Regions from separate parts of the Homo sapiens genome. Here region 1 is linked to region 2. Evidence: fine-mapped expression QTL. A gene starts in region 2. The other region holds a variant in brackets. All regions are shown on one strand. Distances are from middle to middle.

Region 1 (5,390 bases), 29 kb before region 2:
TTTTTCATTCAATATTATATTTTTGAGATTGATCTATGTTGATACATGTAATACTAGTTTATTCATTTCATTGCTGTATAAGATTTTATTTTGTAAACAAACCATAATTTATTTATTCCTGTAGATAGACATTTAGTCCTTTTGAGTTTTTCACTTTTCACTATGTTCTAGGGTCTTTTGATACACAGAAATTTTACTTTTAATGTAGTCTTTTTAAAGAAATCCTTTTGGTCCAGAGGTCATAAAGATTTCCTACTATCTTCTAAAAGTTGCAGATAGGGCCTTTAAGGAGGTAATTAAATGAGGTCATATGGATGTGGCCCTAATCCAATAGAACTGGTGTTTTTATAAGAAAAGGAGATGAGGACGCAGATGTATGCACACAAAGAGAAGGCCATGTGAGGACAGAGTGAGGGGGGCCATGTGCAAGCCAAAGAGAGAGGGCTTAGGAGAAACCAAACCTACTCACACATTGATTTAGGACTTCCGGCTTCCGAAACTGTGAGATATAAATTTCTGTTGTTTAATCTATGCAGTCTGTGGTATTTTGTTTTAGTAGCCCAAAGAATCTAATACATCCTCTCCATGTCCCCAAACACAGACAATTTGCCATGACATCTCTGACATATATTGAGTGTCCACATAAGCATGGGGCTGTTTTTATCGTGTTTCATTTTTGGCTATCTCTGCATGAGTACCAAAGATATATAACTAGTCTTCATGCTTGGTATGGCGAATCTTCCAACTTTGTTTTTCTTCACAATTATCTTGGCTATTTTTGTCCCTTTTGTCTTCCTCGTGTATTTGGAAATCAGGTTGTCAGGTCTCACCAAAAATGTCATAGAGTTTTTATTGAAATGGTATGTATTTAGAAACTAATCTGCAGAATACTGTATTCATCCATACATGAACTTGGTACATCTCTTCATTTCTTGAGGTTTTCTGTCAAGTGGTTCAATAAAGGTGTATTGCTGTTTACTTAAAGATCTCATACACATTTTGTTAGATATATTTCTTGTTACTTTATGCTTTTTTATCAGATTTAATTTTTAAGAAGATAAATTGGGTGAAATAAAGGATGGGAAGAGATTTGGAAACAGAGTAGTCAGATGGTAATTTCAGTTTAATTAAGTTAAATGAAACCATAAGAGTTTGAACTAAGACAGTGGTAGTAAGTTTAGAAGAAAGGAGTCTTCCTGGAGTAATTGCTGTAATATAGGTTTAATATTGAGTGTGTATGAGAGATGGAGGTGTCCAATAGGAAATTGAGAATATTTTTGATATGGAGTTAACATAAATGATCTGGTTGGAGATGTGTGTTTGGGAGTCATTAGCATATTCTTTTGATTTATTTTTAATTTGTATTAAAACTTAAGTGGGGAACTGGGATGCTCATTATTGCATAACCTTAAAGACCCCAACAGTGTGGATCTGCTATGTTAAAGTATAGCTCCAGTATATTGTGTGTGGGGCCAGGCGTGGTGGCTCACACCTATAATCCCAGCATTTGGGGAGGCTGAGATGGGAGGGTCACTTAAGCCCAGGAATTCAAGACCAGCCTGGACAACATGGTGAAACCCTGTATCTATAAAAACTTTGAAAAAAATTAGCTGGGCATGGTAGCACATGCCTGTGGTTTCAGCTACTCAGGAGGATCACCTCAGGAAAAAAAGGCTGCAGTGAGCCGTGATTGCACCACTGCACTCCAGCCTGGGTGACAGAATGAGACCCTGTTCCAAAAAAAGGTATATTATGCACAGGGAAGAGTGTATTCGTTTCCTGCCATAACAAAGTACCATAAACTGAATGGCTTAAATAACAGAAATTTGGCTGGGAGCAGGGGCTCACACCTGTAGTCCCAGCACTTTGGGAGACTGAGGTGGGTGGATCACCTGAGGTCAGGAGTTTGAGACCAGCCTGACCAACAGGGTGAAACCCTGTCTCTACTAAAATACAAAAAAAGATTATTGGCAGGTGCCTATAATCTCAGCTACTCAGGAGGGTGAGGCAGGAGAATTGCTTGAACCCAGGAGGTGGAGGTTGCAGTGAGCCAAGATTATGCCACTTTATTCCAGCCTGGATGACAGAGTGAGACTCCCTCTCAAAATCAATCAATCAATAAATAATAGAAATTTATTCTCTCATAATTCTGGAGGCCAGAAGTCCAACATCAAGGTGTCAGCAGGACTGTGTTCCTGGACCTGCTCTTGGGGAGGATCCTTCTTTACCCTTTCCAGCTTCTGGTAGCCCCAGGTGGTCATTTAATTGTGGCAGCATAAATCCAATCTTTGCCTTCATCTTTATGTAGCCCTCTTCTCCCTGTGTGTCTGTGTTTTCACATGACATTCTCCTCTCTGTGTCTCTTTCACCTCTTCTTCTAAGGACACTAGTCATATTGGATTAAAGGCTCATTCCACTGCAGTATAACTTCATCTTAACTTAGCTACTTATATCTATAATGACCCTATTTCCAAATCAGATCACATTTTGAGGTACTGGGGGTTACTCTCCCCTCTATGCAGTGGCTGCCACCCACTTTCAGACTGACTTATAGTTCCTGGCTGATAGAATTGAGAAAGGAGGAGCAGGGAAGAGAGGGTCAAAAGATGGCAAGTGAGCAAAGTAGGTGGGCTTTGTGGGGTTTTATGTGCCTCTGCTTGGACCCCTGGCCATTGTACTCACCAGAAAAGCAGCCTGTTGTCCTCAGAAATATGGGAACCCAAGCCTGTAGATGCCTTGGGAGACTCCAGGGATAAAGATACCTACAAACTTGGATGATTCTACTCCTTGGATGTGTTTGCCTCAGGTTGTTATTAAGCTTCTTGCTGTCACCAAAGGGGGAAAACCAAAACAAAGCACTAGGATTTTTATTTTTTGGATTTTAAAAAAATTAATTTTAAATTTATAATTGACACATAATAATCATACATATTCTTGGGGCACATAATGATGCTGTGATACATATAATATACAGTGATCAGATCAGGATAATTAGCATATCCATCATCTCACACATTTATTATTTCTTTGTGATGGGAACATTCAATATCCTTCCAGCTATTTGAAACTATATAATATATTATTATTAACTGTAGTCATCCTATGGTTGTATTAGTCTGTTCTCATGCTGCTAATAGGAACATACCCAAGACTGGGTAATTTGTAAAGGAAAGAGGTT[T/C]AATTGACTCACAGTTCAGCATGGCTGGGGAGGCTTCAGGAAACTTACAAGCAAACACGTCCTTCCTCACATGGCAGCAGCAAGAAGTGCTGAGCAAAAGGTGGAAAGCTCCTTATAAAATCATCAGATCTTGTGAGAACTAACTCCCTGTCATGAGAACAGGATGGGGGAAACCACCCCCATGATTCAATTATCTCCACCTGGTCCCTCCCACGACACATGGGGATTGTGGGAACTACAATTCAAGATGAGATTTGGGTGGGGACACAGCAAAATGATATCAGGTTGTATAGAACACTAGAACTTCTTCCTTTTCAATTTTTTTATTTTTTATTTTTACTGAGCTAAACTTTTTTTTCCTGAATTTTCCTCCCTCTTTGCCCATTTTTCCCTCTGTAGCAATACCAGATTGTCTACAGTCTCTTTCATAGGAGAAATTTTCCAACATTTGAAGACATCAATCATGTGGTTTCTTAACATCTCTTCACATGACATGCTCCCAGGCTCCTTCACTACTTGCCAGTACTATTACCTACCATTTACCGAGCACTCACTGTATGCTAGCCAACATGTTAAGCACTGGACAGACATCATCCTGTTTAATCTTCAGAACAACACTGTGAAATAAATATTGTTACCTCCATTTTAGTGTTGAGGAAACTGAGGTCCAGAGAATTAAGGAACCTGCCCAAAGACACACTGCTGGCAAATAGCAGAAGTAGGATTTCAACATGTGATTGTACGTGTGTTAATTGAACAGTCCAAATGTGCTGGAGTGTGAACATGAAATAGTCTTATCTTTCTCCGAGTCCTTGTCTCCAGACTGTACTATGTTGACCCTCCCTTTCTTTTTGGCAGATGGATTCCCTACAGGACTCATGAGCAGATCTCATAATTTCTGGGCATGTTCCACACCTTGGAGTAGGAATCAGTTAGGGTTGTTCTTGGCTGCAACTAACAAACTACTAGCAGTGGCTTAAGCACGGAAGAACTTAATGATCTCACAGGTGACCTGGGTAGGGAAGGGCCCTGGTCTACTCTACAGCTCTTCTAGACTCTCTCACCTTGGAGTCCAAACGCATGGCCTTCCTTTGGAACACCTTCTCTCTCTCCCACTTCGGGCTCAGCTCCTTTGCAGTGAAAGATTGGAAAGAATAAACATCTCTTACTCAATGACCTATGGGTGCAGTCCCCTTTTTGTTGTTTGTCTCTGCTTTTCTTGCTTCCATGGACTGGCCTTTGAGGTCAGGTGTGTGGCAGGATCTGAATGCTAGCTCTCTTGAGCTACATGCATGTTTTTTGTTTTGTTTTGTTTTTTAGAGCCAGCAATGCTTCTCCAGGGAACAATTCCCTGATACTGGAGAGTAGGATCAGCTTGCCCATTTGCACTCTTCCTTAGTGCCTGCCATCACCTCTGCAACCAGGCTTTCTGCTGCTTGGGTTCTTTTGCCCGGTGGATTGCAATAAGAAAATGGCTCAAGGTTGACTTTCTTCCAGCGAATCTGTTGGCCGATGGGGCACTCCTGCACTCCTGCTGCACCATATGATGAAAGGCAGGCTGATCTGCTGTGGTTTCTTGCTCCACTTTACCATCTCACTCTAGTCATTATTGTAATTCTTTTAATTTAAGGACATTCAATGGGAGTTTTATTTAGAATACCTAAGAATTCCAAATGGATCAAATCTCAGTGATAGGGAAATGGTTTAATAAAATGTAATTCAATTTTACAATAAAATAATTTGTGGTCACTAAAAATCATGTTTTTAAGGAATAGTTAATTTCATGGGACTATGTTCACAATATAATAGGAAAAATTGCTAGTGGTTTACAGTATAATCCCAAATTTACATAATACACATGAACACACGCACACACACACATGCACTAGTTCATCTTAGAAGAAATACAACACAATGTTAATAGAGGTCTTGTCTGGACAGCAGGATTATAGGTTACTTTAATTTTCTTTGTTATAGTGGGGTTTTTATTTTTGTTTTCCTTCTCCCATTTTCTGCAACCAATATATATTGCATTTTTAAGCAAGGGGAAAAGATTTTAATTCTATCTGAATTTTAAGCGATATTACCATAAGTCATAATTTTTTGCCACTTGTAATAAAGGCCATGATCTAGGACTTTTCCATTAGAAATAGTGTGGAAACCATTTTGAGAATGAAAAATGATTAGGATGAGCAAAGAAATGCCTGTCTAA
Region 2 (5,390 bases):
TATTTTAACCTCATTTCAAAAATGGTGAGAATAAGAAAGACTAGTCATGTATCCACACATTAATTTTTAAGCTTTAGTATCTTCAGTTTCAGTTTAGCTAAACAGACTAAAAGCTGCCACTTAACCTATTCAAATGATATCCCCTGGTAAGTAAGGTGGCACATTTTAAGATGGTTTCCTGACAAGTCTTTTAATTTTCTCCAAGAGGCAGAATGGAAGCAGACCTTAAGATAAAGCTAAACCTCTTTTGGAAAAATGAATGTCTGGAAGAATGTCTCACAGAATAACGCAGGACCAGGTCACTAAGCAATGCTCTAAGTGGGGACACAACGTGGACTTTTCCAAGCCTTCAGCTGAGGGCAGGGATGGCCAAGTCAATGGTCCCTCCCTGTTCTGTATTCAGTTTTTGATCAGGCAGTAATGTGCATGCAGGTCAACAAACATTTATTAAAGCTTTTTGTTTTTGCTTCTTCATTGATAAATTACTAATAAATGCTCATTTGAAAAAGCCAAACAAACCAAATATGTGTACTAAATTGTACATCGTAAGAGGTAACTGTCCCTTCAATTTTTTTTGTAGTTAACAGGTTACCACTTCTAGCAATTAGGTAGGCATTCTTATAGACCTTTATCCCTATGTTTTTGTTCTGTTCCTATATATCCAGTTTTTTTGTACAGAATGGGATCACCCACACATACGGTTCTGAGCCCCCCTTTTCCATTTAATAAGAAATCAATATCTATGAATTTTATATATTTTATTCTTATTAATGGATGCATAGTATTACATGGTATGAAGTGCCACATTATTTAACCATATCACTATTGATGGGCATATAAGTTGTTTCAAACATTTACTATTACAAAACTTCTGCAATGCATATCCTTTTATATCTATCATTACACATTTGTGTGTTTCTGTATGACAGATCTCTAGAATTGAGATAGCTGGGAGAAATGTATGTGCATTTTGAATTCTGGCAGGTATTGCCAAATGCTTAATGGCCTGCCAAAAAGACCTTGTCTTTTGACTTCATCTGGAATATTATTGACTTCATTCAGAATATTCCCATTACAAGAAAGTGGCCAGTCTCTCCGAGGAACAAACTGTTTTCCTTTTCCACCATGAAATAGATCTTATCTTTTCATTAGTTAATATAGGTGTACCTTCAAATGGCAATAACATTGTTCTGCTTTGTGGCTTCTCAAGTAGTAAACCCAGAAAACATCAGCTACCGTGGATTTTATTATAAATCATTGACATTCCTTTGGTGATTCACAAATGCCAAAAAATAAATGTCATGTTCCCCAGGGTTTGAAGAAAGACACTGTAGCTTTTGGATTCAGCAACGGATCTTTCAAGAAAACAGTATGGAGGGATGACTCACTCCCCCCATGGAGGCTGCCCTCTAGTTCGTCCTTTAGAGGAAGCATGACCAAGGGTCTGCTGGTACTTTTCTCTCCCTCTCTAAGAATTTCCTCAGGAGAGGAAAAAGTTAGCTTTCTTTTCTCTGCTCCTGAGTGCCATGGCCTGCAGTACGTGACCAGTCCTTGGCACAGAGTCACTCAGGGCTCATGGTAGATGCTTAGCGGTCACAGCCAGTAGCTGCGCAGTGTGGCAGCAGCTGAGATCCATACTGCAGCCTGAAAGTTGTGTTTCAGCTTCTGAGGTTACAAGTGTATCCAGTGTTTACATCAGAGATAAAGCCCCCTTTCCCCTCTCTCCTACGGGAGCCCTCAACAAGACAGATACACGGGTTGGGTGGAGTGAGACCACATCCAGCAGAGGCAAAGCTTGCTAAAAGAGAGAGGAGGAGGAGGGGGAGAGGGAGGAGGCGGCACGGCGTCCCTTGGCAGCTCCGTGCATGCTGCGGCAGTTGCAACAGGAGAACCGAGTACCAGTTGCTCAACACTTTATCACTTTGCATTGCTCTTTCTCCTCCCTTAAGTGAATTTCCATTTTGAGGGTACAGCTCCACAGGAGAAAGGTGTGGTGGTGGTAGTGGTGGAGGGTGTCTGTGGGGGGGATGGTGGTGCGACGGGAGTTGGAATGTCCAGTGTGGGGAAGCAAAGGAGTGCCTACTAGGATGCGAATACCACTTGGCCCTGGGCTCGCTCCGCTTTAGCCTTCCCCTCTCGCTGGGGAGAAACAGGCGGTTTGTGAGGGAGACTGAGAGAGGGGCGTGTTTGTGGTGGTGGCGGCCCATCGGGGGTCCTTGTCCTCTCCGAATACCCGGACTGCTGAGGGGAAGGGCCGGGGGGGCCCCGGCGGTTGCCATGGTGACGCAGGGTCGGCGGCTCAGCGCCGTAGAGACAAAGCCGCCCGCCCGCCAGCCCGCTAGCTCCTCGCGCGAGCTCCTCCTCCACGGGAACCTCCCTCCCCTCCCAGGCGCCGCCGCAGCCGGAGCGGCTCCCGGGCCCTGGGCCGCCGCCGGCCAGGTAAGGCGATCGCGCCCGCGGCCGGGGAGGGGTCGGCGGGACGCCGGGCCTCCCCAACGCTGGGGCAGCAGCCAGCCCCGCAGTCCTGGACGGCGCCGGGCCGCCCAAGCGCGCCGAGGAGAGGGGGCGGCAAACTTCGGGCCGAGCGGCGCCGGGGCCCGCGCGCGGAGTCTCCCTCCGGGCACCACGGGGGCCGCCGTCCTGGCACCAACTTGAGGGGCTGTGCGGCGGAGGGCGGCTGCGGAGCGCCCGCGCGGGCTGCACCTGCTCAGGGAGCTGCCCCTCTGTTGTTGTTGTTATTTTCCTTCTTGGCGTGCCATCGAGGCTTTTGGGGGAAAAAAAGGTATGAAAGTATTTACCTTTGGACTTTCATGTTTCATGGCATTCTCTTTGAGGAGGGGTTGGGAGGGTAGTAAGAGGGACAAGCGAAAGATTTTTACGAATCTCTGAAAAGTGAGCCCATTTTTATGCCTGTGGCTGAAGCATTTTGAGGAGGCTTCTGAAGTTCGTTTGGATATTGAATCGAAAGACCTTTTTTTCTTTGGAAGGTGCAGTTGCACCTATAACTGGATGGTAAGGGTAGCCCGGCTTTCCCCGACTAGCAAGACCAGAATGTAGAGCAGTACCGATACTTTGTCAAGGAGATACTTGGCACCGAGGTCATTGCTTTTGTTTCTAGAAGGTATTGTGTTCATGCTGTAAGGAACTGGAAAGTGCCTTTTGTTTTTATGTGTAGGGAGGCAATCCAAAGCACCTCTGGAGGCAGGTAGCTGGGCGGTGTTTGCATCGGTGTTTATGAGTGGGATGATGAGGACCACGATGCGGTTGCCACTGGGGCACTGGATAGGTTATAGGTACCTTTCTCAGTGGCCCCAACCCTTGCAATCATTTCGTGATAGTTTGTTGCAGACGCGAAGCACAGATTTAAATTGTGACTGTGAAGACTTTTTTTTTTGGTACTTAGACATCATCTTACATGTAGTAATATGAAAGAAAACAGATACATTTTCAGAAATACAGTTGATCAATTCAGAAGGAAATTGTATATATGTTAATAAGATTTGTTTTAAATCATATTTAAACAATATGAGATGTCATATTGATAACTGGAAAATAATCTAACATATAAAATTGTATATCCAACTTAGTAAAATAATGTATAAGTTGGAATAGGTCATTTAAAGAACTATATGGAATGCAAGAAATTATATTTTTGCTAGAGAGTAATTAATGAAAACAGTACCACTGATCATTTTGAATTGCAGTTAAGTTGATTGGAATTCTGCATATTACAGCTACTTGAGGTGTCAGGCAAAGAGTGATTATTTAATATTCCTCTTCCCTCTTTTGGGATTTCAACACCTGTTAGCCTGCTGATTACTAGGTTTCTCAGTCTGTTCATATTTGCCAGCAACTTCAAGTAATGCCACTTCATTAGAAGATTGTATTGGAAACTAAAGGATTGAAGTTGCAATTAACAGTTTGCAGGTTATTTCACAATTGGGCTTGTTTTTAAACTGAATTTTACCTGTGGAAGATTCACAGATGCTCTGCTAAATACTCTTTCATGACGGTAATAAAATCGTACATTGATTAAAACGAAGTAGATCTGTTTTGAGAAGATAAACGGGAGAGAAAAGTATTTTCTCACTTAAGCATGAACAGCAAATAGGATATTGAAGCCTAGGCACATTATATAGACAGAGAATGTAGTTTTATGTTTTGTACTAAAAATAAATTATTTTGTGTGTTTGTGTGTGTGTGTGTGTTTTTTTTTTTTTCCTGAGGGACCAACAGAACAGCTTTATTCAGATCTTTGTTAGCAAAACCAGTATTCAAGTTCAAGGACTTGGTCCGTGCTTTCTGCCAGATGAAACCCACACTGTGAGTTCTAGCCTAAACATTTATGTTGTGGCCCTTAATCTGAGTGCTGAAGAACGGAGATATCCATGGTGAATTTAGCACAGTAAGGACCGGTGCTTTGCCTTTGCTGCTAGCTCACACGGGCACAACATTCAATATAGTTTGGCTTCTTCAGAGCTGCATCATTTTCTGCCAAAAAATAAAGTCGGTATACAGAAATCAACAATCATGTATTGCATGCACTGCTTGGTTGTAGTGGCTTATTAATAAGAGCTCCGAAGCATGAAATGAAGCTTGTGTCAGTGCAGTGGAAAACAATAATCTGGCATGTTTATATGTGTTACTAGTGTTCTGAGGTATGTGCATAACCAGATAATGAAAGAAAAAATACTATGATATCTGCAATATGTCCTTAGAAAATGCAAACAGCAATTGTGTTTTCTGTCCATGGTTTAGCCACCTGGTGGAAGCAGGCAACAGCATTGCATATCCCCAGGTGTAAAATACTAGTCATCACTCTTGCTGATTCACGGGAGTAGGAGTCTTTTCCTGCATTTTAGCTTACGGGTTTTAATTTTATGACGTAAAATTGGTCCTAATTTTTGGTATAAGCTGTAAAATATGGCCTGATAATTGTCACCATAGCTGTATTCTACCTGAAAGAATTCTGTAATTCAGTTTATGAAGCATATCCAAAGACAAAAAAAAGCCACAAATGTTCCTGTTTAAGTTAGGATTAACATTATGTTTGTGCCATTGAAAGTCAGTTGTTTGTAACCATATAAGCCTGCATAGGCAGCCTAAATAAAGCCACTGAAGCCTTTATTGACTGTTTCTGGGTCAACATTCTCTTGCAATTTCTAGTTGCACTGTGATAACATGATTACTGGTTGGTAATTTAGCATCTAGTGCAATGTGTTGTAGCATTTATAAAAGCACATTTGTGAAGGATGGTAGTTTTTAAATGATTTCTTCATTACCAAAACACTTAGATTTAGATTTGTGGCTGGGGAGAATAGTGTGGCCCTGAGACCTCAAGACAAAATGCTGTAAATATCAGGTATTGTTAACTGACCTGCTGTGCACAG

Evidence for each region. PIP is the estimated chance that this variant, and not a neighbour inherited with it, causes the effect.
Region 1: its variant is the best candidate, but not a certain one, in a credible set for the expression of RNF182 in substantia nigra (GTEx, PIP 0.88).

The regions. Positions count from the first base shown.
Region 1 is chr6:13,893,500-13,898,889 of GRCh38, forward strand. No RefSeq gene overlaps it. Among named protein-coding and RNA genes, the nearest start is that of RNF182, 29 kb to the right of the region's middle. The variant T/C (reference allele first, on the strand shown) is at 3,179.
Region 2 is chr6:13,922,585-13,927,974 of GRCh38, forward strand. It overlaps RNF182 (ring finger protein 182), which reads left to right and starts at 2,368. Exons shown (of 3, transcript NM_152737.4): 1 at 2,368-2,439. RefSeq lists an enhancer at 1,263-1,763.